4 separate regions of the Homo sapiens genome follow, and all the other regions are linked to region 1. The links come from fine-mapping of genetic effects on gene expression. A gene starts in region 1. Each other region holds a variant in brackets. All regions are shown on one strand. Distances are from middle to middle. Region 1 holds the start of ANXA6 (annexin A6). Region 2 has its middle 16 kb from the start of GPX3. Region 3 overlaps ANXA6 (annexin A6). Region 4 overlaps ANXA6 (annexin A6).

Region 1 (5,119 bases):
AGCAGATCCCCTTCTTCTACTCTTCCCCCAACAGTATTCAGTATTTCCAACACAGGAGACTTCAGTGACCCTTTAAAAAATATGTCTTGGCCAGGTGCGGTGGCTCACACCTGTAATCCCAGCACTTTGGGAGGCCAAGGCAGGTGGATCACCTGAGGTCAGGAGTTCAAGACCAACCTGGCCAACATGATGAATCCCCGTCTCTACTAAAAAAATACAAAAATTAACTGGGCATGGTAGCAGGTGCCTGTAATCCCAGCTATTTGGGAGGCTGAGGCGGAAAGAATTGCTTGAACCCACGAGGTGAAGGTTGCAGTGAGCCGACATGGCACCACTGCACTCCAGCCTGGGCAACAGAACGAGCCTCTGTCTCAAACAAACACAAAAGTCTTATCCAGAATATAAAAAGAACTCATATAACTTAACAACAAAAAAGACAAAAAATCCAATTTAAAAATGAGCAAAAAGCATGATTAGATATTTTTCCAAAGAAGATGTACAAATAGTGGCCAATGAGCACACAAAAAAGATACTCCACATCATTAGTCAGAAGGGAAATGCAAATCAAAAACACAATTATAGATGCCATTTCATAATGACTAGAGCACAAGTTTTTTGTACTTTTGTTTTTTTGAGACAAGTTCTCACTCTGTCGCCCAGGCTGGAGTGCAGTGGTGCAATCACGGCTCACTGCAGCCTCTACCTTCCAGCTTCAAGGGATCATCCCACCTCAGCCTCTCCAGTAGCTGGGATTGCAGGCATGTGCCACTACCCCTGGTTAATTTTTTGTAGAGATGCGGTTTCGTCATGTTGTCCAGGCTGGTCTCAAACTCGTGGGCTCAAGCAATTCACCCACCTCGGCCCTCCCAAAGTACTGGCATTACAGGCATGAGCCACTGTGCCTGGCCGGGTACAAATTTTTAAAAAATAAAATACAAGTGTTGGCAAGGACATGGAGAAATTAAAAGCCTCATACATGACATGGCTGATGGGAATATAAAATGTTGCAGCCACTCTGAAAAAATGTTTGGCAGTTCCTCAAAAACTTAAATGTAGAATTACTATATGACCCAGCAGTTTCATTCCTAGGTAAATACACAACGACAATTGAAAACAGGTACTCAAATAAGTATTTGTATGCAAATGTTCATTAGCAGCACTATTCACAATCAGCAAAAGGGGGAAACAATGCACTATCCATCAACAGATGGATGGATAAACAAATTATAGTGTACTTATACAACGGAAAATTATTCAGCCATTAAAAGGAATGGAGTGCTGGACCGGACACGGTGGCGCATGCCTGTAATCCCAGCACTTTGGGAGGCAAAGGCGGGTGGATCACCTGAGGTCAGGAGTTCGAGACCAGCCTAACTAACATGGTAAAACCCCATCTCTACTAAATACAAAAATAAATTAGCCACACGTGGTGGTGCATGCCTGTAATCCCAGCTGCTCGGAAGGCTGAGGCAGGAGAATTCCTTGAATCTGAGAGGTGGAGGTTGCAGTGAGCCGAGATCACGCCATTGCACTCCAGCCTTGGCAACAAGAGCAAAACTCCAACTGAAACTAAAAAAAAAAAGGAATGGAGTGCTGATACATGCTACAGTGTGGATGAACTTCAAAAACATGCCACATGAGGCCAGGCACGGTGGCTCACGCCTGTAATCCCAGCACTTTGGGAGGCCGAGGCAGGTGGATCACCTGAGGTCGGGAGTTCAAGACCAACCTGACCAACATGGAAAAACCCCGTCTCTACTAAAAATACAGAATTAGCTGGGTGTGGTGGCGCATGCCTGTAATCCCAACTACTCGGGAGGCTGAGGCAGGAGAATTGCTTGAACCCAGGAGGCAGAAGTTGTGGTGAGCAGAGATCACGCCACTGCACTCCAGCCTGGGCGACAAGAGTGAAAAAACAACAACAAAAACAAACAAACAAAATGCCACATGAAAGAAGTCAGACAAGAAGGGTTGCATCTCATGTGATTCCATGTATATGAAATATCCAGAATAGGCACATCCGCAGAAGCAGAAAGCAAATTGGTGGTTGCCAGAGACGAGGGGTAAGGGAAAGTTAGGAGTGACTGCTCAGTGGGTATACTGTTTTATTTTTCCGTGAAGAGAATATTTTGGAACTAGATAGAGGTGGTGGATACACAACATTGTGTCTGTACAAAATGCCACTGAATTGTTGACTTTAAAATGGTTAATTTTATGTTGTGTGGATTTCATCTACCCAAAAATAATACCCTTTCTTTGCTCAATATCCTGCAATGGATCCCCAGTTGACTCAGAGTAAAAGACAGCGTGCCTTCAAGGGCCCCGGAGGTCCCACCTGATTGGGTCCCTCTTATCTCTCCTCTCCCTCCCACTCACTCCATTCCAGCCACACTGGCCCCCCTGCTGATCCTCGGAGGCGCCAGGTGGCCTCCTGCTAGGAGCATTTGCTCCAGCAGTTTCCTCTGCCTGGAACACTTTCCGCAGGTATCTGTCCAATTCTTCTAACTTCCTCATCTTCTCCTTACCAATCCCCTGGGGACAATAATTCTCAGTTTCCTCTGTATTCTCAGTTTATCAATTTTTCCTGTTCTAGCGCTGGATTACAACTGCTGGTCTCCCTGCCTGCCTTCCCTGCTTCCCAGAGCACGAAGAAGCTTGCCTCCGCAACCCACTATTTGTGTGACCTTGGTCCAGGAACTGGACTGGGCTCTCCTCCTGAAAGTGGGTAAATAATGTCACCGACCTAATGAGGCTGTTGAGGCATGGAATCTGATCAGGCAGATAAAGTGCCCCTGGCAAACCTCAATTTTCTGTTTCTCAACAAAGCTTTGGCGACTTATAAGAATTTGCGGGAAAGTGTCCAGAACCCGGAGTCAGGAGCCCTGACTTCTAGCCCTGAAGGGCCGCGTGACCTTGGCCAAAGCCCCTAATCCTTCTCAGTCTCAGATCCGGGGGCTGGAAACTGAGGAGGTTCTCCCGGCAAGCCCCTCGGGCTAGTGACATTCTAAGATTCCAAGAGCTAAGGAGCTAGAGGGGTGGGGTGGAGGAGGGAGGCGGGCGCGCCGGATTGGCCTCTGCGCGCCACGTGTCCGGCTCGGAGCCCACGGCTGTCCTCCCGGTCCGCCCCGCGCTGCGGTTGCTGCTGGGCTAACGGGCTCCGATCCAGCGAGCGCTGCGTCCTCGAGTCCCTGCGCCCGTGCGTCCGTCTGCGACCCGAGGCCTCCGCTGCGCGGTGAGTGGGCTGAGGCTGGAGAGGGGAGTCGCTCTGGGAACCCCTTCCCGGGGGCTGCAGGGACACAAGAAATAAGCGCCCAGTCATCGGCTGATGGGTACCCCCCGCCAGGAGCAGGGACGGGAGGGCGCGGTAACCCGAGAGTGTCGCAGACTGGGTGTGTCTGGGGAGCGCAGCGGAGCAAATCTGGGGTCGGGGCGGAGAGGCGCGGGCGGAGGGCGCCCTGGCTAGGGGGAGGGGAGGGAGTCCCGTTGCTGCAGAGGGTCTGGTTGAGGGTCCTGGGCGCCGGAGCTGAGCCAGGGGCTGGTCCTGCCGGCCTTAATTTGGGGGGGCTCAAGAGACTTTGAAGGTCCGGGGTTGGGGTCAGCTGGACGCCAGTCAAAGGACCCGCAGAGAAGGGTGTGGCTGAGGCCCAAGACTGAGAGCAAGAGCGTTGGACCCTCCAGCTGCTTATAAAATGGCTTGTGTGTGGTGTCGGGGGAGGGCTGCCTGCGTGCAGAGAGCTGAACGTCCGGTCGTACATACCTCAGGGCCTCATTGGACCCCATCCCCTTTGGGCCACTGCTTGTCTATGAATGCAGTCTCCCAACGGGGCTCCGAGGCCTCCTATGGTGAGGCAGGGGCACTACCCTTCTTTCTGCATCCCCTAAGCGGTCTAGGCCTTCCCAAAGTTTGGGGGCTTCAAATAATTCCCCATATACCAGCATGGGAGCAAAATACCCTGAATCGGAATCCCAGCCCCTGTTGCAGTGTGACTTTGGGCGGTGGCTTTCCCTCTCTGAGCCTGGATTTCCTTCTCCAAGTCCATAGTTGAGAAACCCAGTCTCTTTCAAAGGAAACAATGGCTTTGAAAACTGATTTATTTGTCAGCTGTATGGAATGATTGCAGGTTTGGGAGTCTTGATTATAGATTTGGGAAGCCTGGCACAACCCTTGTAGGCCCTACAAGGGGAAAGGGCAGGAGGTCCTTTGGGACAACTAATCTGGCCACGGCTTCCTGCCTCCTCCTTCCTTTCCCTAGATTCTAGTGGGTCTTCTCTGACAATTCCAAATTTGGACATATGGCTCCCGGGTTTGTGAAAGGACTCTGGTTTCCCCCCAAGAGTCCGCCCTTTTCCCTCCATTATTCCTTCCCCCTTGCCCAAAACATGCTTGGGATTGCTTCCACTGACCCAGATGGCATATCCTGACCTGCGTAGCCCTTCATGGTGAAGTGAATGACCGCCCCAGTTTCAGCCCCTGTGGACCCTGACCTCCTAGCAGGCAGGCCCTGAGCCACGCCGAGGGCACTGGCCTGGGGTCAGAGGAAAGCCCGGTTACAGTCCGGATGTGCTGGGACTTCTTGAGCAAGCCCTTTCTCTAAGGCTTTGTGCCCCATCTGGAGCAAAGTCTGCTGAACTGGCTGCCACTGCCAGTGCAGACATTCTAGGATTCAACTGTTCTAAGATTTAGGATTCTGGGAGTTGGATGGGACTGGGGAGGGCAGGAGGCAGAGGCTTTCATCCCCCTCTGCAGCTGTGACAATCACTCATCCATCTTTCTTTGCCTTATCTACCCTTTGTTCCTAAGGCAGCATCTGCTGAGATACAGAAAATACTTGCAGTTTCTGGATAAGGGCCACAGCTGTTGCTGGGGCAAAATGTAGATGTGAGTGTGCAGAGGAGGGGCCAGGGAAGCCCAAGGCCTGGCCTCTTGAGACTGACTCCTGGGATGAAGTGGGGGAGACTGCAGTGCTGGATAGCTGCCAGTGACTGGCACATCCGCACTGCAGCATCCAGAGGGAGCCCTGGGCCACCAGGATCCAGCCTCGGACCCAGCCCCTGCCCTGCCACTAATCAGCTAGGCGCCCTGGGCACACCTACTACCCCTCTGGGGCTTAGCCCCTTC
Region 2 (5,155 bases), 150 kb after region 1:
AAGGTTCTGTCTTCTTCTTATCCAAAAAGGAGGAATGTGGGTTTTCAGGACTTTAGAATACCCTCAGAGAAGGTCCAGCTCTCCTCTCATGCACACATACCCCTGTTCTACCTCTCCATTTGCATATAATAGCTGAGATTAATTTAGTACCAACTATGGGCTAGGCGCTATTCTAAGCACTTTTAAAAGTGCTTTTATAAATTAGGTATACTATAAATTGCATTTTATAGTTGAGGAAACTGAGGCACAGAGGAGTTATGTACTCCAAGCTAGCAAGTGGTGGAGATGGTCTGGTTCCAGGACCTGCACTTCTACCCAACTTCTGCTCTTCACTTCCTTCCCACACTTCACTGAAGCTCAGAGAGTGAAGGGGACTTGCCCAAAGTCACACAGCAATTTACACAATGATCTCTGATCATTAAGCCATTGGAAGAGCCAGATTAAGGGCAAATAGAAGCCAAAGGTTAAAATGTCTTGGCCTCTCCCATTCTACATCCTCCCTCCACCCCCTGTTCCCATGGGCTATTTACTAAAAGCAGAGAGGCCTAGGGTGCGGTCTCATGGGGAAGTGCCAAGGCCAGGCGGGCCCTGCGGTGGTCAGCCCTCCTCTGAATGAAGCCTGGCTTCTTCGTCTACCCTCCCAGGCAGCAGCAGCACAATCAGTGGGGTGGAAGTGCCCAGGGTGGAAATGGGAGCAGGGCTGGAGCAGGAAAATAGAAAGAAAACAGGGCAGTGGCCAGGATTAGGGCAAAAGGATAGGGTGGAGGGGGAAAGACATGACCAATATGTTTTAAATGTCCACTGTGCGTGCCTAACACAGTGCTAAGCACTTTCCCTTACATCCTGAGATGAAGGTCCCATTATTACCCCATTTACGCAGGAGGAAACTGAGGCTCAGAAGGTTGAGTTATCCTGTGTGTCTACTGTGAAACGTGTCCTCTTTCCACTGAAGAAAGGGAAGGAATGACAGCAGAGTAGGAGAGGAAGGAGGAAAGAGGAAGAGAGCCAGATTCGGGAGAAAGGAGAAGAAAGTGAGTATGGGGCCTTGGCGCTCTGCCCCAGCAAGGGCAATGGGCCCAGAGTCATCCTCATCTCCCAGAAGGCTCACTGGGGAAATGTTTATGAGAAACCTCAACATTCAGAAGGGGCATGACCTTCCAGCTGGCTGTCCCGTGACTGCTGCTGGCTATAAACAGCCTGCTTATTAACCCCAGGAACCTGGCTCCTCTGCCACTTAAGGGATCGCCTGGAATGGGTGGGTTTGGAGAGCAGGAGGGTGCCTCGCCAAGAATTTGCAGACCAGGAGGAGTGGCTGCTAGGAACTAGATGATTTGTAGAGAGCTGGGCCAAAGGGGGCCCCCTCTGCTCCCACCCCTTGCAGAGTTGCTCAAGACGACATAGTGAGTTAATGTGCCCTAAAAGCCCTTAACCCAGACTTGACCACTTTAAGGGAATTACAAAGCTTGACTCATCTCATTATTTTCCCTAATGACCCATGTCATTAAAGCACTGTGGTGACATCAAATGAATTAATGGTCATAAAGGCATTTGGTAAACTGAACACCCCTGCATACCTGAGACCTTGTTTCTAGTCCAGTCCCCACCCCTATTGATCACTTAGGACAAACTCACATAGTGAGACAAACACAGAGTCACCCACCACAAGCTTACTGCCACTTACCTCCTTAGGTCGCTCAGCCACACTAAGTCCCAGCTGTGAAAGAAAGACCTTGGAGGTTATAATAGTACTGACCTACTGGGGTTGCTGAAAGGATTAACCGAGATACTTCCTATGAAGTTAGCACAGTGCCTGCACCTTTGTGTGCTCAGTCAGTGTTAGCCACATCCATGCTGTGGGTCCCATGAGAAATTCTATAAACTCCACCACCGCCACCACCACAGTAATGCTCTTAAAAATGACCTCAAATTGGAAGTTTTTTGAATGGAGAACAAGAGAGGAGGCAGGTATTTGCTGGAGCTGGACTGGGAAGAAGTAGATTTCATACACAGCTTGAAGGACTGGAAAGAGAACACTGAGAATATCACTGTGGAATTTCTGGGAAAGGAAGGGAATGTCTAAATACAAGAAATTGA[T/C]GAAATGCTTTTGGATGTTTACAACTCAAAAAAGAACAGAAAGTCTCCATCTCATTCAAGGGCAGTGGTGGGACATGGCGACTTTTCAAGGACACAGGAGCTAGTGGCTGTAAGTGAAAGGTGTTGACAACCAGCTGAGCTCACAGGACTCATCCTGCTGGCTGCTGTCTCTGCAGCGTTGCTGAGTGCAGTGGATCCTTTTTCCACCTTGCATTCCAGAAACTTCTCCCAGTGTTCCCAGTAACAGTGTCCTACCTAGAGTCTAGGAATGTATTCCTGTCTATTCCATTGCTTCCTCTTCCCATTGAATCTTTCTTTTTAAAAATATTTTGAGAATTTTTATTCACATAAGTAACAGATGATTACATTTTTCTTATAAAATTAAAACCTGACAACTATGCTAAAACCCCATTTAACCCCTTCTGCTCTTCATGTTTGTCCCAACTCCTCCCCTTTATCACAATTAGCATGGATTTAGCTTTCCAGAATTTTCTCTATGCCTACACATACATCATTTAAAATATATATGTGACAGGATTGTTTGGCTTTTCTTCTTTTTTCATAAGTAATGTTTTATACATTATTATTGCACTACATGTTGTTTTTCTCATCCACTGTATGTTCTGAAGATCTGTCCATGTCAATACCTTTGATCTACTTAATTGGTAACTATTGCACAATGTGGATGTTTAATGGTTTATTTGCCTGCTCCTCCCTGACCCAGGCTTTCACCAAGACAGACAATGCTGCTGTGAACTTTCATACGCTCTCTTGTGCACGTGTGATTTTGTTTCTCTGGGATAGAAACCTGGCTGTGGAATTGCAGGTTATCAGGGTCTAACATGCCTTGCTGAATCTTAAGTGTAGGTTTTTCCCTGGCCAGCTCCCTTGGTCATTTCTTCTTCTTTTTATTTATTTTTTATTTTTTTGAGACAGAGTCTCGTTCTGTCACCCAGGTTGGAATGCAATGGCGCAATCTTGGCTCACTGTCTCTTGGGTTCAAGTGATTCTCCTGCCTCAGCCTCCTGAGTAGGTGGGATTACAGACACCTGCCACTACACCCAGCTAATTTTTGTATTTTTAGTAGAGACGGGGTTTCACCACGTTGATCAGGCTGGTCTTGAACTCCTGACCTCAGGTGATCCACCGCCTCGGCCTCCTAAAGTGCTGGGATTACAGGTGTGAGCCACTGCACCCAGCCTTCTTCTTTTTTTAAATTTTATTTTATTCTATATAGAGAGGGTCTTACTATGTTGACCAGGCTGGTCTTGAACTCCTGGCCTCAAGCAGCCCTCCCATCTTGGCCTCCCAAAGTGCTAGGATTACAGGCGTGAGACACCACACCCGGCCCTGGGTTTCTTCTGATTCTCAGGTACTATGTCTAAATCACCAGCTTCCTGTTTCTAACTCTCCTCTAAACATCTCCACTCAAAGGTCCCTGTGGTCCTTCCAGCTCATAAAAGAAAAGTGAACTCGCCTCTCCCTTCTGTCCAGCCCCTCTCCTGGTGTACACACTCACATTCTCCTGGTTGCCCAAACATGAAAATCTTAATCACAATTCTTTCCTCTTTCCCCAGCATCTAATAAGATCTTGTGGATTTTATCTCTGTAATGTCTTCTGGTTCTCATTCCTTCGCTAGTTATCTTTGGCCAGGACTATTTTAACAAGCCCCTAACTAGTCTCCTTGTTCTCTTAGGCAATGCACCAAATTAATCCTCATAAAGCACACATGATGTCATTATCTTCAGTTGGTTTCACCTGAATACAAAATACAGCGGGATCTCCTTGCCTTGCTACTCACAGTCTTCACCACTCTGACTCAGTTTTCTTTCTCTAGTTTTGATCTCTTCAGATTCCTCCTTTTTCACACCCCAGGCACGCTGATCCCCTTGCCATTCCCAGACGTGCCTGTATTTCTTGCCTCTAAGGCTTCGTTTCTGTGTTTCCTCTCTTAGAAGTCTCTCTCCCAGCCCTGCCTGTTGAAAGTCTACCAACCCTTGTAGGGCCTCCTGAATTCACATTAAGGACGCGCGTTCCAGTGTTGTGCCACGGTAGCTGGTTTCTTAACCTCTCTGACCATCAGTTTTCTTCTCTGTAAAAAAGGGTAGGATACCTTCCAGGTCTATGGGGATTTGTTTGTTGGTTTGTTTGTTGGTTGGTTGGTTTGTTTTTAAGAGACAGGGCCCTGCTATGTTGCCCAGGCTGGTTGCAAACTCCTGGGCTTAAGCAATCCTCTTGTTTTGGCCTCCCAAAGTGCTGGGATTACAGGCATAAACCACGGTGCCTGGCCTGTGGGGAAGTTTTAATGAGATTATGCAGGTAAAGCACTTAGCACAGTGCCATGCACAGAGTAAAGGCTAAATACACCTTACCTCTTATTGTCAGCATACCCCTTCCATAAAACTGTGCCCAGCCTCACTATCGAAGTGAATTTCCTACCTTCCTGGGCTCTCCTGTCTGTTACAGTGGGCACTTGGTTATTTAGGTGTGTCTGTCCTCACACCTGATAATGACCCCCTGAGGGGCAGGGATTGTCTTCTTTATTTCTGCATGCCTCATAGTGTCCCCAGCACAGCACCTGGACTTGAACTGAATGTAGGCAGAATGTTGTACTGCTGTCAATTTATTTGGAAATACAGAAGAGCGCCTGATAATGAAATCATCAGCTTTGCCTCCAAAAAATGAGGCTAATACTAATGCTACTACCTGCTCACAAGGTTGGGGTAAGCTTATGTATGTGAGATAACTTTCTAAATCGTTTTTTTTTTTTTTTTTTTTTTTTGAGAGAGAGGGTTTTGCTCTGTCACCCAGGCTGGAGTGCAGTAGTGTGATTATAGCTTTGTGTAACCTCAAACTCCTAGGCTTGAGCTGTCCTCCTGCCTCACCCTCCCAAAGCGCTGGGATTACAGGCATGAGCCACTGCACCCAGCCTCTTTTTCTTTATCCTAAATCTTAGCCTGTCTTCCCATGGTTGCCTGCTTCCCCCTTGTGGTTAAAATTCCAATCATGTATTAAAATCAGTCAATAGAAATAATCTAGCTGATAGAGGTTTATCTCAGC
Region 3 (5,155 bases), 30 kb after region 1:
CTTCCTGTATTGAGCTAGGTGGCCCTCAAGGAATAGAAACAAAGAGGGAGTCAGGCCATCCCATCCCCCTTCTGAGGCAGCCAGAATAACTCTACCTCTTCCTCCCTCTTCACAGTGAAGTGTATCCGGAGCACCCCGGAATATTTTGCTGAAAGGCTCTTCAAGGCTATGAAGGTGCGTGGTGGGGCTGATGTGAATGGGGTTTGGGGAGAGGACTATTGGGAGTCTTTGACAAGTCCTTGGGATCCAGTGGCCAAAGAGAGCCCTTCAGGGATGGCCACAGGACTGACCCTGGTGAAGGTGCTCTGTCGCAGGTGAGCTGTAGAGCCAGGAATGCTGCTGGTCACATGTCCTGCCACCTGCATACCTGCCTGACGTCATGAGTCAACAGATGAACTTAGGGTGGCAGCCTGCACCTGATCCCTCCAGCCAAATGGGTTGGCGGCTCGGACTTTGAAGAAGTATTAACCAGAATGTTTTTATACAGCGTATGTAGGCAAGACCACTTTGGCCTTGCCTGCTAAGACTCATGATGCTCACCCTGTGACAGTTCCACTCTGGGTGTGTTTCTGAGAAAGCTTCCCAGGCTTTTACACATATGACGCACAAAGAAACTGGTATTTTTGTGATGCACTGGAGGAAATGAATGCAGTTATTTGCTGCCAGAGGCCTGAGGCCCGAGACACAGGAGCTTGGGCCTTTCTGGCCCTGGTTGGCCATTCCGAAAGGACAAAGTAGACTGTCGGCCATTCTCTGCCCACCAGTGTGCCATAATGAGGTTGGGCAGCTCAGCCCTAGAGAGATGTTTGCCTGTATGCATGAATTCATTAAGAATGCCCATCACAAGGCTGAGTGCATGCAGTGGCTCACACCTATGATCCCAGCACTCTGGGAGGCCAAAGTGGGAGGATCACTTGAGGCCCAAAGTTCAAGACCAGCCTGGGCAACATAGTAAGACCCTTGTCTCTACAAAAATAACAAATAGAACTAGCCAGGGACTGTGGCACATACCTGTAGTCCTAACTACTCGGGAGGCTGAGGCAGGAGGATTTCTTGAGCACAGGGCCCCTGGGTTTGAGGCTTCAGTGAACGCAGTGCTATGTGATCACGCCACTGTACTCTAGCCTGGACAACAGAGTGAGACCCTGCCTCTTCAAAAAAAAAAGAAAAAGAAAAAAAAAACTTATAACAGTATTGCTTATATTAGGAAAAAGCTAGAAACAACCCAGTGACCATCAGGAATAGTACAGCAAAAACCTAAATGCACAGTGGTATATTTGCAGAGTTCCAAAATGTGTAAATCTAAGTGTATTGCTTAGAGTTACAAAGCTATGGTAAAATTATAAGGAAAATCAAGTGTGGAAATTATACATGAAGAGAGAAGAGGTTTATAACAGTGAGAGGGCCGGGCATGGTGGCTCATGTGTGTAATCGTAGCATTTTGGGAGGCCAAGGCAGCCCTTGAGGCCAGTTCAAGACCAGCCTGGCCAACATGGCAAAACCCCATCTCTACTAAAAATACAAAAATTAGCCAGGCGTAGTGGTGGGTACCTGTACTCCCAGCTGCTCAGGAAGCTGAGGCAGGAGAATTGCTTGAGTCTGGAAGGCAGAGGTTGTAGTGAGCTGAGATCGTACCACTGCACTCCAGCCTGGACAAGAGTGAGACACTGTCTCAGAAACAAACAAACAAACAAACAAACAAACAAAACAGTAAGAGGAGCATAGAGAGAGCTTCAATGGGAATGGCAATGTCTGCTTCTTTTGCTCTAAATTTTAACTTTTTATTATGAAAATAGGATTTTCAACTAAGCTGGGAGCTATCAGCACTCTAGCCTCCTCTCAAGTCCATGTTCCCCAAACCCACTTGTCTTGCAGGGCCTGGGGACTCGGGACAACACCCTGATCCGCATCATGGTCTCCCGTAGTGAGTTGGACATGCTCGACATTCGGGAGATCTTCCGGACCAAGTATGAGAAGTCCCTCTACAGCATGATCAAGGTCAGCAGAGCTCATGGGGGCAGAGAAGGGAGCAAAGAGCTTTTTGCCAAGACAGAGGGCTTGGGGACTATTCCCAGGAAAAGGAAATGTCCTAGGAAGTGGGAGTCTCTTGGACATTCCAGGAGCTCCTGCCTTGTGGCTCATTCAAGGAATTTAAGGATATTCAACAGAAAAGCAAGTGTTAGGGGTGTTTGTGAGTGGTAAGGCTACAGAAGGAGGCAGGGGCTGGGTCATGAAGGACACGCAAGCTGAATTAAGTGCGAGGACTCTGCCCCAAGGGCAGTGATAGTTCAGTCTCCTGGAAGAAGGCTGGGAAACACTGAAGAACACAAATGAGGGTTAAAGGGGAACCTTTGGCCTGGGCC[G/A]GGTGATTGGTGATGACTCTGGGACATCCGGCCCCTGAGGCTTTATCAGGAGACATATGTAAAGCTAGGGGTTTTCCCTTTTTTTTTTTTTTTTTGGATGACTGAAATAAAACTTTATGGGGTGACAGAGAAAGAGATCCAAGTTGTATTCTCCAAAGTATGTTTCCAAAGGGTAATTTTTTTAGGTGTTATGTGCAAAATGTTCTATGGGAAAATAAGTTTGTAACAAACCACAATAAGCAAAGATAAATAAGCCAGTTTCTTTACCTCAGAACTTCTCACAGCCTTTCACATTTTGAAGTCCATTATGAAGCCCCAAGAGGGATATGGAATATGCATCTATACGGATATGTGCATCTGTGTAATATATATTTGTTTGATTTTTTTGCATTTCCCAATATTTTTGCTCATGGAACCCCATTTCCATGCATATTTCATGTGGAAGGACTGGGCTGGGGACTGTCTGGTGGCAGTGCTGTGCTGGGGCACTGGCTTGAAAGGGCAGCGAGCATCTCTTCTCAACTCCGCATATTGGTAGCAAAGTCATATTGGTAACTTGAAATTGTCCATTGCTAGAAGTATTTACACCACAGAAATAGGCAAATGCTATAAATTAGGGCTTCCTCCAACCTGCCCGCTGAGAACCAGTTATTCAATATTAACCAGCACAGGAGGGCCAGGGCTGCTATGAATAAGTGTTCATTCAGCCTTCCCCTCTTTCAGGCTGTGCAGAACCTTCACCTCCTTGTCTGAGAGGAGCCCAGGGCTGGGTGAGAGGTAACCTTTCTTTCTTTCTCTTCAGAATGACACCTCTGGCGAGTACAAGAAGACTCTGCTGAAGCTGTCTGGGGGAGATGATGAGTAAGTGGCTTCTTGGCCCCTGGCTGGAGGGCATGGCCTTGGGGTGCCAGGCGGGGACTCTCCTGGCTCGCATCCTGATGGGTGGATTGGATGAGCTGGGGATTCCCCTGAGCCAGGAGCGTCGCACAAGTGAAAGGCGGCTTTTGCTGGTAGCTGCTGTGCTTGTGGGTCTGTGTGTCTGAGAGTGTGGGGGTCTGAACGTGAGCGTGGTCTCCTGTATATGGAGATGTCTGCTCTTGTGAACTTGGAAAGTCAGTCTGGGGTTGTGGACTAGGAACCAGAATATGAGCATCCAATCCCTGCTATTTCATAGCCATTTCTCGGTTTCATCACCTGTTAAATGGGAAAAGGACACATTCCTGCTCTGCCTACTCATTTATGCAGCATATTTGTGTTAAGTGCCTTCTGGGTGCAGACCCTGTGAGGAAGCCCCTGATGAAGGCCACAGCGCAGAAGGGTATAGACCAGTTTCCAGAAGGGAGCAGTCCTGTGCTGGGGAGAACTGGCTGTGCCACATAGAAAGCATATATAAAAGCACACAGAGATGCCCTAGCCCAGACCAAGGGGAGACTCTTTGGAGATACACGGTGAGACCCAAGGAGGAAGGGGAAGAGCCAGGTGAAGAGGGTCTGGGGACAGTGTTTGGGTGGAGGAAATCACCTATAGAAAAGCCGAGGAGTGAGAAGGAGTGGCCTGATTCATTCATATGTCCGAAGTCATGCATTTATGGAGTACTAGAGAGAGAAATAAGGCAGAGAAGTGGGAGGGCCTGGGGGCCTCTTCCCAGAATGTTAAATTGGGACATTACTTGACCAGATTTGTGTTTGAGAAAGGGAACAGGCTGCGCTCTGATTTCCTTTCTCTGGATCTTATAAAGATCCAATTACAGAAGGGATGCAAGAATTTCCTGTGAACCTTTGGTAAGGACCATAGGGGTTGATGCAGTTCAGCAGATATTACTGAGCTCCTGATGCATCCAGGCACTTTGCAGGAGGAGATGCAGGGCTGGCATGGCCATAGCTTGCTCAATGGCCTCTTTGAGAGGGGAGAGTTGGATAGAAGCCATTCAAATTCTAAGGAAGAAAGGGGAGGCTGAAGGATTGGAAAAATCCTATCCTGCTTGGACTCTGCAGCCAGGAAGGCTGCCCTTAAAAGCCAGCATTGGCCGGACACAGTGGCTCAGCGCCTGTAATCCCAGCACTTTGGGAGGCTGAGGCGGGCGGATCACCTGAGGTCAGGAGTTCAAGACCAGCCTGGCCAACATGGCGAAACCCCATCTCTACTAAAAATACAAGAATTAGCCAGGCGTGATGGCGGGTGCCTGTAATCCTAGCTACTTGGGAGACTGAGGCAGGAGAATCGCTTGAACCTGGGAGGCAGAGGTTGCAGTGAGCTGAGATCGAGCCACTGCACCCCAGCCTGGGTGACAAGAGCAAAACTCCGTCTCAAATAAAAATAAAAAATAAAAAAGGCAGCATTGCAGGGGGTCTCAAGAGATGGAAGGTTCTCAGAAATGGAGGGAGGACTCTGGCGAATGGAGGAGGCATAGGCTGGAGAGAAAGAAAGCTTAATGTGTGTGTGGTGTGTGCACGTGTGTGTATGTGTTGGGGTGTGTGTGTGTGTGTGTGTGTGTGTGTTGGTGTGAGTGTTGCCCATGATGACATTCCTTCCTGTCCTCTCCCTAAACCCCTCCATTCCAGTGCTGCTGGCCAGTTCTTCCCGGAGGCAGCGCAGGTGGCCTATCAGATGTGGGAACTTAGTGCAGTGGCCCGAGTAGAGGTCAGACCTTCCCCTCCTCCTGCTTGACCTCTTGACCACAGCTTCTCTGCTTGCACCTTCCTGCTGCTCTGGTTGGCACCCAGCTGCCCCCTGGCGGCCAACCCGACACGTTGATTCTCACATCTGAAGCTTCCTTTTCTCCCTTGGAGTGG
Region 4 (5,155 bases), 57 kb after region 1:
CCCGCAGTGAGATTGACCTGCTCAACATCCGGAGGGAATTCATTGAGAAATATGACAAGTCTCTCCACCAAGCCATTGAGGTAAGGGGAGGGGCTAGAGGTTAGCAGGAAGCGGGTGAGTGTCAGATCCCTAATATAAGATTAGAAGTCTTTATTCCCATGGACTTTTTTCCAGTGGGTTACCGCTTAGAACAGCCAGGATATTGAAATGAAAGGGGGTCTGTATTGCATTGTTTATACCGAAATCAATTCCAAAAGAATCAAAGGTTTATAATTAAAGATTTCCAAATAAAACAAGAGCCCATTTTTTGCTTTTTTTAAAGCAATGTTATGGAAGTATAACTTACATATCATGGGCAGGCATGGTGGCTCACACCTGTAATCACAGCACGTTGGAAGGCCAAGGCAGGTGGATCACTTGAGGTCAGGAGTTCAAGACCAGCCTGGCCAACATGGTGAAACCCTGTCTCTACTAAAAATACAAAAATTAGCTGGGTGTGTTGGCTCATGCCTGTAATCCCAGCTACTCAGGAGGCTGAGGCAAGAGAATCGCTTGAACCCAGGAGGTAGAGGTTGCAGTGAGCTGAGATCACGCCACTGCACTCCAGCCTGGGCAACAGAGCAAGACTCCATCTCAAAAACAGACAAACAAACAAACGAAAAACTTACATATCATAAAATTCACCTGTTTTAAGGGTACAATTCAACAGTTTTTAGTAAATTTACTGAGTTGTACAACCATTCCCATAATGCAGCTGGTTTCCAAACACTTCTATCATCCCACTAAGCTCTCTCATACCTGTTTATCTAGTTCCATCCCCAGCCATAGGCAACCACCAAGCTACTTTGTGTCTCTGTAGATTTGCCTTTTCTGAATATTTCATATAAATGGAATCACCTAATATGTGACCCTTTGTGTCTGACTTTTTGTTTGTTTGTTTGTTTTTGAGACGGAGTCTTGCTCTGTCGCCCAGGCTGGAGTGCAGCAGTGCCATCTCATCTCACTGCAACGTCCACCTCCTGGGTTTAAGCAATTCTCCTGCCTCAGCCTCCCGAGTAGCTGGGACTGCAGGCATGCATCACTATGCCTGGCTAATTTTTGTATTTTTAGTACAGACAGGGTTTCACTGTGTTGGCCAGGCTGGTTGCTAGCTCCTGACCTCAAGTGATCCACCTGCCTTGGCCTCCCAAAGTGCTGGGATTACAGGTGTGAGCCACCACACCTGGCTGCGTCTGACTTTTTTGACATATGGAGCTTATATTTTTGCTCTTTGAGATCAGCCAAGATCTTAAAGTCTGATGCTTGGTTCTACTTGGCTAACGAGACTATGGGCATCTCAGAGGCAGTCTCTTACAGACTTAGTAGGAATGTAAGTAAATTGTTGGCACATTTTGATACTATATTATGTTTTAAAATCATACATCAAAAAATACAAGGACAAACAAAATCCCGAAAACCATGTCTCATAACAATGATAGGAGTCCCTCAGAAGGGAGATCCATACCATACCATGGGTCAGGAAGTTTGGCCTCCCCAGTCTGAACGTATACCAGACCACTGTGATGTGTGGTGAGCGTGATGGTGTTTGTACCCATTCCCAGCAATGGCTTGGCAGTTAGCACTCAATGTTGTTTGTTCAAATAAGAAATCACCTAACACGATATGCCAAGGGCCATGGGGGAGGGTATCAGCAGAGTGCCAGGGGAACCAAGGGAGGCCAGAGTTCACTGTGCCTCCTGACGCAAGAGAGTGGCCAGAGTGCTTCTCAGAGGAGAGGGCCCTGCTGGCAAATGGGATTGGGGGTGCACAGGGGCATGTTGGACAGGGGAGTGACAGGTGGAGAGAGGACTGAGATGCTCCTGGGGGAAAGGAACAGGTGAAGCTGCAGAGCTCTGCACAGGTCAGATCCCAAAGGGCCTTGAAGCCAGGCCGGGAGCTTGCATATCTTCCTGGGGATAAACAAAAGGGACGTGGTCACATTTATGTGTCTGGGAGATCCCAGTAGCCTACATGTGGCATGGGATCCTATGTTGGTCATGGAGAGAAGCCGAGGGAGATGTCCAGACAGATGGGCAGCCGGGAGGAGGGGGCATTGAGACTGGAAGGACTGTTTTCACTCACTCTGCTCTCTGCCTCTGCCAGGGTGACACCTCCGGAGACTTCCTGAAGGCCTTGCTGGCTCTCTGTGGTGGTGAGGACTAGGGCCACAGCTTTGGCGGGCACTTCTGCCAAGAAATGGTTATCAGCACCAGCCGCCATGGCCAAGCCTGATTGTTCCAGCTCCAGAGACTAAGGAAGGGGCAGGGGT[G/T]GGGGGAGGGGTTGGGTTGGGCTCTTATCTTCAGTGGAGCTTAGGAAACGCTCCCACTCCCACGGGCCATCGAGGGCCCAGCACGGCTGAGCGGCTGAAAAACCGTAGCCATAGATCCTGTCCACCTCCACTCCCCTCTGACCCTCAGGCTTTCCCAGCTTCCTCCCCTTGCTACAGCCTCTGCCCTGGTTTGGGCTATGTCAGATCCAAAAACATCCTGAACCTCTGTCTGTAAAATGAGTAGTGTCTGTACTTTGAATGAGGGGGTTGGTGGCAGGGGCCAGTTGAATGTGCTGGGCGGGGTGGTGGGAAGGATAGTAAATGTGCTGGGGCAAACTGACAAATCTTCCCATCCATTTCACCACCCATCTCCATCCAGGCCGCGCTAGAGTACTGGACCAGGAATTTGGATGCCTGGGTTCAAATCTGCATCTGCCATGCACTTGTTTCTGACCTTAGGCCAGCCCCTTTCCCTCCCTGAGTCTCTATTTTCTTATCTACAATGAGACAGTTGGACAAAAAAATCTTGGCTTCCCTTCTAACATTAACTTCCTAAAGTATGCCTCCGATTCATTCCCTTGACACTTTTTATTTCTAAGGAAGAAATAAAAAGAGATACACAAACACATAAACACATTTCCAGTGAGGGCCTCTGTCTTCTACCTAGAGCCTGCAGCCTGGATTTTCCTCATTAGAGCTTGAGGTTGTAAAGTCTGTCCAGGAGCGAGTTACGTCTTTAAATTCTTGCAAGGTGTTTCCCGGGAAGCGCACAGGAGAATCTGAGTTTGCAGCAAGCCTGGGAAGGCTGGCCCAGCCCTGCTCCGGGCCTCAGGTTCCCCCTCATCCCCTCTCGCTGTCTGGACATTTCTGTATGCTCTTCATCCATTTCAACCAAGCCCAAACTTCCTCTTTTGAACTATGCAAGGGTGCCCGATGTGATCTTGATCTGGAGAGGTGCATGGAAAGTTTCCTTCATGCAGGTCACTGATAAGCAAGTAGGCGCAACTGCAGTTCCTCTGCCTTCCCTCCCCCGCTGCCCTACTTCTGGTCTGTGGCTTTGGTCTAAGATTGTCCAGTGACCATGGCATGGGGCTGGCTGCTGGCCAAAGGGCACTTCTCCCTACCCTGGCTGACCAGACTAGTTTATTGCAGGTTAGCGCGTGTTTGTTTTCTTTTCTTTCTTTTCTTTTTCTTCTTTTTTTTTTTTTTTGAGATGGACTTTCGCTCTTGTTGCCCAGGCTGGAGTGCAATGGCATGAATTTGGCTCACTGCCACCTCTGCCTCCCGGGTTCAAGCGATTCTCCTGCCTCAGCTTCCCGAGTAGCTGGGATTACAGACATGTGCTACCACACCTGGCTAATTTTGTATTTTTAATAGAGATGGAGTTTCTCCATGTTGGTCAGGCTGGTCTCGAACTCCTGATCTCAGGTGATCCACCCGCCTTGGCCTCCCAAAGTGCTGGGATTACAGGCGTGAGCCACCGTGCGCGGCGCATGTGTTTGTTTTCATAGCTGTGAAGACAGCAACAGGCAGGTGAGAGAGTCTGGTCTCGTCCCTCCCTCACTTGTGACCTCAGACCAGCCATTGCCCTCACTGGGCCTCAGTTACTCCAACTTTATAGTGGGGGGTTGGATCCAACAATTTTGAAGAGCTCTCTCTTAATCTCTGACATAATGAGTCTGAAACAAAGAAAAGTTACCTTACCGTGTCTTTACTTCCTTTCTTCTGGGCTGTGAACTCAAGTGCCTTGAGGGCCAGCTAAGAGCTTTTTGGGATATTTGTCTAACTTAATTGAACTGTTACTGAAAGATAAATTAACAAAATGGTTCAGAGTTTTGGATTAAGACCTTTGTAACTAACTGACCGTCAGCACAGGAGCTTCGGTTTCCTTCTCTGTAAAACAGGGCTCCTCATTCCAATTCCACCTATCCTGTAGCCTTGTGGGAATAAAAGGAGGCACCACGTGGAGGTGCTTGGCAGGGTGCGTGCCTGGCTCGGAGTCAGTCTCACTACCTGCCCCGAACCAGGCTCAGTTGTAGGGGCTGAAAGGTGGAGCCCATGATGCTTTATGGCTTTGATTTCATGAAGTCCGTCAGCTGCAGATCACAAAGGCATTTGAACCCAAAAAGAAAAGTGCCTTAAAATATATACTGAGGGAAATGGGCTTGGGGCAGAAAGGAAAGAAGAGTGGAATCAGGGAATAGAAGTGAGGAGAGCCCATGGAGCTGAGGGGAACACAGAAGAGGAGGCCTAGAAACCAGGAATGAGGACAGCTAAAATCGGGCAGTAGCTGTCTGATGCCTCCCTAATGCCTCAGCATGCATTTTCCACATAATTTTCAGTTAAGGTAGTTGCATTCTGGTACTGGTCGGTAGCAGGAAGGAAACCCTAAGAGTTTGTGAGGTGAGGTAGACAAGATGAGAAGTGACAGTTTGTCTCCAATTAAGGAGGACTTTAAATGTCAGGATTTTCTCTGATAACCTAGGGGAAGCCTTTGGAGTTCTTGAGTGGGGAAGGTGTGCGTCTAGCTATGCTCTGAGGACAAATGTAGGAAGGCAGGGTGCCATTCGGGAGCCTTTTGCAACGGTCCTACTAAGAGCTCGGTGCCAGCTGAACAAACCACATTTTTTTCTTGGAGTTTTAGCAGAGGAGGAGAGTAGCCACTGTTCTGAACCAGAGCACCCCATTCATGCATGCATGCAGTTTACACTTAATGAGTGGCTCCTATGTTCCATGCCACGTGCTAGGTGCAAAACATACAAACCAATGTGGTTCTGGTGCTTAAGGAGCTTCCACTGAGTGTCCCTCCTGCTCAGCTCTCTCCAAAATGACACTGGAGATTGCTTC

Evidence for each region. PIP is the estimated chance that this variant, and not a neighbour inherited with it, causes the effect.
Region 2: its variant is fine-mapped to the expression of ANXA6 in lung (TOPMed, PIP above 0.99).
Region 3: its variant is fine-mapped to the expression of ANXA6 in lung (TOPMed, PIP above 0.99).
Region 4: its variant is fine-mapped to the expression of ANXA6 in whole blood (INTERVAL, PIP above 0.99).

Annotation. Positions count from the first base shown.
Region 1 is chr5:151,155,793-151,160,911 of GRCh38, reverse strand. ANXA6 (annexin A6) reads left to right here and starts at 3,133. Exons shown (of 26, transcript NM_001155.5): 1 at 3,133-3,232. RefSeq lists a silencer at 2,261-2,320 and an enhancer at 2,116-2,972.
Region 2 is chr5:151,002,337-151,007,491 of GRCh38, reverse strand. No RefSeq gene overlaps it. Among named protein-coding and RNA genes, the nearest start is that of GPX3, 16 kb to the left of the region's middle. The variant T/C (reference allele first, on the strand shown) is at 2,095.
Region 3 is chr5:151,126,250-151,131,404 of GRCh38, reverse strand. ANXA6 (annexin A6) reads left to right here. Exons shown (of 26, transcript NM_001155.5): 11 at 116-174; 12 at 1,876-1,998; 13 at 3,166-3,224; 14 at 4,925-5,003. Among named protein-coding and RNA genes, the nearest start is that of ANXA6, 29 kb to the left of the region's middle. RefSeq lists an enhancer at 5,092-5,155. The variant G/A (reference allele first, on the strand shown) is at 2,364.
Region 4 is chr5:151,098,495-151,103,649 of GRCh38, reverse strand. ANXA6 (annexin A6) reads left to right here. Exons shown (of 26, transcript NM_001155.5): 25 at 1-80; 26 at 2,143-2,944. The coding sequence ends at 2,202. Among named protein-coding and RNA genes, the nearest start is that of TNIP1, 20 kb to the right of the region's middle. RefSeq lists enhancers at 4,895-4,944, 5,135-5,155. The variant G/T (reference allele first, on the strand shown) is at 2,309.